2 linked regions of the Homo sapiens genome follow. The protein of the gene in region 1 interacts with the protein of each later gene in a pairwise test. Each region holds a gene or a part of one and is shown in the gene's direction. Other genes may lie near its edges. The genes, in order: CNTNAP4 and RANBP10.

Evidence for each region.
Region 2: the proteins of CNTNAP4 (region 1) and RANBP10 interact in a two-hybrid assay, tested with the Homo sapiens proteins (one study listed by BioGRID and IntAct).

The regions. Positions count from the first base shown.
Region 1 is NC_000016.10:76,532,131-76,535,950, forward strand, and holds part of CNTNAP4 (contactin-associated protein-like 4 isoform 1 precursor), read left to right. Parts: intron 1-3,414; coding exon 3,415-3,654; intron 3,655-3,820. UniProt on the Homo sapiens protein: Presynaptic protein involved in both dopaminergic synaptic transmission and GABAergic system, thereby participating in the structural maturation of inhibitory interneuron synapses.
Region 2 is NC_000016.10:67,733,338-67,737,157, reverse strand, and holds part of RANBP10 (ran-binding protein 10), read left to right. Parts: intron 1-2,115; coding exon 2,116-2,300; intron 2,301-2,358; exon of another isoform or gene 2,359-2,609; coding exon of another isoform or gene 2,610-2,917; intron 2,918-3,820. UniProt on the Homo sapiens protein: May act as an adapter protein to couple membrane receptors to intracellular signaling pathways.

The DNA.
Region 1 (3,820 bases):
TACCTTCAGTGCCCAGAAAGAGCTGCTAAATAAAGCTTGGAGAGCTGAAGTGTTGTTCAATCCAAAGATGAGCTGATGCATACAAGAAAACGGATAAGTCTTCTTTTACCAGATAGTGGTGTGAAGTGCAAAGAAACTTCCTTGGAATGGAAGGCTATCTGTGGGTCTGAATCCTGCCTCTGCCTCTAACGAAATGTGTTTATTCTAGTATTTCCTCAGATGGACCTGTGGACCAATCTTTGAAATTCTCTATGCCCCTAGTTTCCCATCATCCAAAACAAACTAAACAAACACAAAAAAATCAGAACAGCTGGAAATGGACTTTAGTCAGTTGTTGGACCCCAAGTTATTTAGTTACGTTGTTACTGGCAGAATGAGATAAGCCTGTGAGTTAGGGAGACTGTGCATGTTTCAGAGCAGCAAATGTATAACAATGTGATTTAATGTTACTGTATACTGTAGACTGTATACCATGATTTAATGTGGGATAATACAAAGTAAATTAAATACACCAAGAGCACACCTTTAATTCAGAGTTCACAGAATGTGGCCCCCCTGCAAAAAGTTCCTGTGCCAAAGTGAAAACCAAGATGTGAGCTGGACCTTACCCAGGGAAGAAATATCCAACAAGGACGCCAAAAGAATCCTGGCCAAAGACTTTGAGCCCTGGGAGCTCACTGAGTTGAGTCAACAGAGTGGAAGAATAGGGAGGTGTGAAGATAAAGAAGTAGCAGCTCTGGTAAGGAAGAAAAAGAAAAATCCTGAGGATAAGGGCAGAAGAGAGACTTCAAGAACGGCAGGTCCTCAAAAAACTACAAATAGAACTACAATGTGATCCAGCAATCTCAATAATGGGCATTTATCCAAAGAAAAGAAAATCAGTGTATTGAAAAGACAGCTGCACCCCTAAGTTTATTGCAACACTATTGACAATAGCCAAGATGTGGAATCAACCCAGTTGTCCAATAACAAATGAATCGATAAAAAAAAAGTGGTGTATATATGTAATGGAATACAATTCAGGCATAAAAAAGAATAAAATCCTGTCACTCACAGCAACATGGATGGAACTGAAGGGCATTATGTTTAGTGAAATAAACCAGGAACAGAAAGTTAAACACAGCATGGTATCACTCATATAAGGAAGCTAAGGAAAGGGTGATCTCATAAGTAAAAAGTAGAACAGAGGATACTAGAAGATGGGGAGGGTACAGGGAAGGGGCACAGAGATTTGTTAAAGGATATACTATTACAGCTAGACAGGAGGAAAAAGTTCTAGTGTTGTATGCCACTGTAGAATGACTATAGTTTACAATAATATGTAGTTTCAAATAACTAGGAAGATATTGAATGTTCCCAACACTAAAAAATGATAAATGTTTGAGGTGATGGTGATGCTAACTACTCTGATCTGATCACTAATATCATGTATATCACAACATTATGTACCCCATAAATATGAACAATTATTATGTGTCTATTAATTTTTACAACAGAACAACAAAAAGGAATAAACAACTCAATTGGGCACCCATATTAAAAATCTTAAAAAAAAAATGGCAGAAGTAAATGTAAATGTAGGAGGAATTAAACAAGAAGATTTCCAGGCATTCCAAAACTCTGTGATGAAATTAACTCCATGCCTACCATGCCCACTTGTGACAATGGCAATATGTTGACACTCTCTAGATTTATAAATAGATTTATAAATAGAACAGCCAACACCCTTAAGACCTTGGCATCCTTCACTGAGGAGAAACCAAGTATGTAAATGGAAACATTTTGAATAGACATTTAAATACAGCAATTTGGATATAGTTATAGCTATGAATCTGAATTCTGAATAGTGTTAGTGTCCGTAAGTCCAGAATTCTCAGGAATTCTTAGAGGTTCCTTTTCATAGTCTTTCATTATTTGCAAAGAGATAATTAGTTTATTAGAAATGTTCATTAAATTCGGGCCTCATTCTCAGTCTCAGAGACCCAAGCATCTCTGTGGGGCAAAAGGGGTCCCCCTTTACCCTTGAAGCACTATGCCCATTTCTCCCATTTCTATGTATATTGTGGTTTAACAAATGAATGGATGGATTTCATAGTTATAACACAGAAATTATTTGTCTACCACTGTTCTTTGTGCTGGATATACAGTAGCAATTGAAGTAGCCCTTGTTGAATGAAGGCTAGGTTAAGGAGCTACCTAAATGATTTGGAAGAAACGAAGTGAACATGTTTTAGGAAAAGAGAATTTATATGTAAAGAGTACATACAAGGTCCTGGTGATGAGACACCATCATTTATCCAAAGATGGAGCTTCTTTTTAGAGGCCTCATAACCATCTAATTGCCTCTCAATAGAATTGCCAGGTTATTTAGGTTAGGGTACTCTTTTCCCGCTTCAAGTTCTGAGCATTAACTTAAGAGTATTCCTGGACACAAATTTATGTATGAATCTACCCAGGGCTTACACTTCTATCAGGGTAGTGCTTATACAATGATGGTCTAGTGATCATCTGAATTAGAATCTCCTGCAAGCTTTGTTAACTGTTGAGATTCACAACCCTATTTTTGGACCACAGAACCAGTATTTCTTGGAGCAAGCTACCGAGTCTATTTATTAGAAGCTCTCCGTGTGATTATGTGTTACCCATATTTCTTAAAGTTTGAGAAACTCTACCTTAGAATAATAGGGTCTGATTCCAACCCAACATTGTAGACCTCTTCAAGGATGACTTGATAGGTACATATGGTTATGTATTCAATAAACGTTACCGTTACATCACTTATTTCTGTATCGATCCCCTTTTGCAATTTTGTTAAGAATCTTTCCAAGCATAAAACACTGAACACTAGACTAATCTTTAGAAAAACAATCACTGGGAAATATGTCAGCCAAAAACAAATAATCTGACATTCAATTACCATCTTTTCAATGAATGGATAACAACCAAAGGACCATATCAATGCACCATCAGAAGATCTCAAGGACTCCTTCATAATTCTCACAAAGTTAAAACTGTACCAGAATCAAGATCAGGTTTAAATATGAAGGACAAACCACACTTACCCAGCAATATATACTTATTCAAATTCCCAGAAAGTAGTTTCTACATTAAAATAACGATACATGTCACTGTTATTTTCAATGAGAGTAGTGTATGACCTCTATTTTATTCCTCAATTTAAAGATCAATAAATATTTTTTAGAAAAAAAATGTAACATATTCAACTTTTAAAAAAATTGAATTAAAGTTGTATCTTTCTTGGAGTCTATATTTGACCATGAATTGTGTTTCCAAAATTATATTTGCTCATCCATTTTTTTTGCCGTTCTCTGTAAGGCCTCAGTTTTGTTTGGTCTTTAAACCCTGAATAAAACACCTAGGAACATGTTTCCATTTGCAGTATTTCCCTTTTAGGTGGAACGGCCACCAGACAGAGAGGCTTTCTGGGCTGCATTCGGTCTCTGCAGTTGAATGGGATGACCCTGGATTTGGAAGAAAGAGCCCAGGTGACTCCAGAAGTGCAGCCAGGTTGTAGGGGACATTGCAGCAGCTATGGGAAGTTATGCCGCAATGGAGGGAAATGCAGAGAAAGACCCATTGGGTTCTTTTGTGACTGCACTTTCTCTGCATACACAGGGCCATTCTGCTCAAATGGTAAGTGTGGCATGGAAGACTGTAAGAGGAAAATTTATTCAATGTGGATTAAATGTCTGGCAGTTCTTTTCTATGCAGCTATTTGAAACAAAAAAAATTCAATTTCTGAATTGCTTTGGCAAAGTATCTGTTGAATGTAAAGAATGAGTACAAGATCCTGGTGATG
Region 2 (3,820 bases), 8.8 Mb from region 1:
AAAAAAAAAAAACAGAAAAGGATGGAGTTTTCTGCTTGCTTAGTTCAGGGCATATCCTCACCTCCAGCCATCCCGCACCTGTACTCCAGTCTCTATTATGAGTCATCACAGGCCTAATCACATGCAGGGCCTCCACCCAGGATGCTGGGAGCCTGGCCTGGCTCTGTGTGTTCTGGTTAGGTTCTGGAAGGAAGGAAGGTTTGCTGACTCTGGTGGCTGCTTTGGGATCCCAAACACCCCAGTGATGCCCCAGGAAATGCCTTTGTGATCTTATGGGCCTCTGAAGCCCAGACCATAGCACCCAGGGTCCTGTTAAAACCTCCAGTCCATGGCTCAGAATCCTTCCCTCTTACCTGGAAGCCCCAGAGAGGGGCTGTGGTCCTAGGCAAAGAGAACAGAATCAGGTGGAGAATGCTGACCCTGGCTAGGGAAGGGTCTAGTTATGGGGACGTGACATGAAATGACCAGGCATGAGCATGGCCAGTATGCAGCCACATGCAAGAAGGTATGGGGGAAAGACATGGTAGGCAGTGACGGTCAGGAAGGCTTGCTGGAGGAGGCGGGCCTTGCCTGTGGTGGAGGATGGTAGGGGAAAGAAAGGAAGCGAGAGGTCCTCTGTGTGCAGAGCCCATGGTGGGCTGAAGCCAGCATACAGGAAAAGGTCCCATACCTTGTGCAGGTACAAAAATGCATGGTTGGCCAGGCGCGCTGGCTCACGCTTGTGATCCTAGCACTTTGGGAGGCTGAGGTGGGCAGATCACCTGAGGTTGGGAGTTCAAGACCAGCCTGACCAACATGGAGAAACCCCATCTCTGCTAAAAATACAAAATTAGCCGGGCGTGGTGGCGCATGCCTGTAATCCCAGCTACTCAGGAGGCTGAGGCAAGAGAATTGCTTGAACCCAGGAGGTAGAAGTTGCGGTGAGCTGAAATCGCGCCATTGCACTCCAGCCTGGGCAACAAGAGCGAAACTCCGTCTCAAAAAAAAAAAAGTGCATGATACTCAGGAAGGAACATGGCCTGAGCACGGAGGTGAAGGGTGGACTGAGGGCCCTGGGAAGACCATCTGCAGTGACAGTGGGGAGGAGGCTAGCGAGGCTCTGGACAGTTGCAGTGGGGAGCCACAGGAACCACCAAGTGAGGGAGGGACCGAACAAAAGCCAGTCATGGTAGAGGCTAGGTGGAAAGCAGGGAGCCTCACACCCTACTGGCCAGAAGATCCTCTTAGCGAGCCTCTAACAGGAAGGGTAGCTTCTCTTCACCCTTTGCCAGCACCAGGGGTCTAGACCACCGGTTCCCTTTTGCCATGTTCCCCTCCTCCCTCCTTTCCTGCGTCATCCCATCTCTGCCTACCCCCCATGTATCTATCTTTTGGTTTGTTTTTTTTTTTTCTTTCTGAGACAGGGACTCACTCTTGTCACCAAGGCTGGGTTGCAGTGGCAGAATCACAGCTTACTGCAGCCTCAATTTCCTGGACTCAAGCCATCTTCCCACCTCAGCCTCCCGAGTAGCTGGGACCACAGGTGCATACCACCACACCTGGCTAATTTTTATCTTTTTATTTTTTGTAGAGACAGGGTCTCACTTTGTTGCCCAGACTGGTCTTGAAAACCTGGGCTCAAGCGATCCTCCTAAATTGGCCTCCCAAAGTGCTGGGATTACAGGCATGAGCCACTGTGCCCAGCCTCATGTGTCTTATTTTTTTTGAGACAGAGAGATCCTTGGCCCTGGATCTTTCCAAGAGGAGCCATGACCCACTATTGCAGCAGACCTTCATGGGCACGTCTGAAGGGTCGTGGAGCCCAGCCCATTTCTGTATGCTTTGGCTGAGTTCCAGAAAGGGCTCTTGGGCCTTGAGGACACAATGGCCTCTGATACAGGGCAGGACACTCTCCATGATGTGCCTTGCTTGCTTTTCTTTTGCTTTCTCCCCTCAAGCTTTGGGGCATAATGTCTCTGCTAGGGAGGTGGACAGAGGTGGCTCCGCCCTGCCTCCTCCAGCCTTGCTGCAACTCTCCCAGCCCAAGCATGGGCCAGCAGCAGCCATGGAGGTGAGGTGAGGCCTTAGAACCCCACTGCCCTCAGGGCCTGACTGACATTTCATTCTCCTCCTCAGGCCAACCTCTACCCCACCGTAGGCCTGCAGACACCTGGGGAGATTGTGGACGCCAACTTTGGGCAGCAGCCCTTCCTGTTTGACATTGAGGACTACATGCGGGAGTGGCGTGCCAAGGTCCAGGGCACGGTCCACTGCTTCCCCATCAGTGCCCGGCTTGGCGAGTGGCAGGCAGTGCTGCAGAAGTGAGTGCCCTGCTCCTGCCCTTACCCACTCCCACCCCACCCCAGCCCACTTCACTCTAGGCCCCTGTAGGGCTACAAGCTGTTCTTACAAATTCCAGCGGGTGGATCCTTTCTGGGAAGCATTCCCAGGGCCATTCAGCCTGCAGCTCTCCTGCTTCTCTGTCGTCGGATGGACAGCTCCCACCGAGTTCTCCGGGCTGCTCCTAATTAAACCTTTGCCTCTCAGCCATATTGGAGGCTCCTGTATATAAGATCACCAGCAGGGCTGTTTTCCTTCCCCAGGTCATTTTGCAGAGGATTTTGCAGAGGATGCCCTGTGGTCTCTTCCTCTGTGGACCCTTTTTCTACCATAGGGAGTATCCATGGTGCTGTGACTCTGGCCTGAGGCCACCTCACAGGGCCCAGCATCCAACTGAGTCTCATTCGTCTATAGCGGTGGTGGAGGGAAGGGAGTTCTCCCTAGGACCAGCTGAGCTAGCTCCTTGGCTGATTAATTCCCAGACTGTCCTGGAAGCCAGTGTCGCTGAACTCCCAAGGGAGGCCAGCTTTGGGTTTCTCTTCCACTTGCCATCTGCAAGCCTGAGTGAGGCAGTGACCAGTATCCACTCTGCCAGGAGGTGGGTGTTAGCTTGGCTCTCAAGGATGGGCAGATGGGCATGGGGAAGGGCTGGGCTTCCACTGCCTGTGGTCATTGCCCTGCAAAGGCACCAGGGTGCTAGGATTCCTGGGGTGGGGTTGGGGTACACACTGAGTTCTTTGTGCAGCCTTTGTCCCTTGAGGCAGGCCCCAAGGATGGGCTGAGGCAGGGGCTAGGTGGCCAGACCTTCCCCAGGAAAAACAGCATTGCTGCCTCTTGTTCACAGCCCCCCAGAGCAGATGACAAGGACTTCCTTGGATGGCCAGGACAGCGCCACTCCCAGAGCAGGCTTGGTGGGATTGCCAAGAAGAGGGGTGAAGATGCCAAGTCTGTGTAGGGGAGGAACTGATACTCTCAGTTTTCAGGGCCTAGGCTCAGCACATGGATGTGTTTTTGTTTTGGGGTTTTTAAAAAAATACTGAGATGGGGTCGCACTTTGTTGCCCAGGTTGGACTCCTGGGCTCAAGTGATCCTCCCACCTCAGCCTCCTGAGTAGCTGGCATCACAGGCATGTGCTACCATGTCCAGCATAGCACATAGGTGTTTTTGTTTACATGTGTGTATCCATGTGCTTGTATGTGTTCATATGTAGCATTTGCCAAGACCTGCATATAATTTGTGTACTGTGGTTTTACATAACTTCATTTAATGAATATTGATAATGGCTATGTTATCACAGAGACAAATTTGTCACAAGCCTTTTGGCTGGCTTCCTCTAGTGGAAGGTCAGGTAATTCCTTCTCTTTTACTTGTGTAGGTAACCCTCTTGTAGATAAAGACTTTTTCATATTTACCCTTGTGTTTATAATAATAATATGGTGTAATAATAATAATTATACTTACTTTACTTTTTTCTGAGTCAGGAGTTTACTCTATTGCCCAG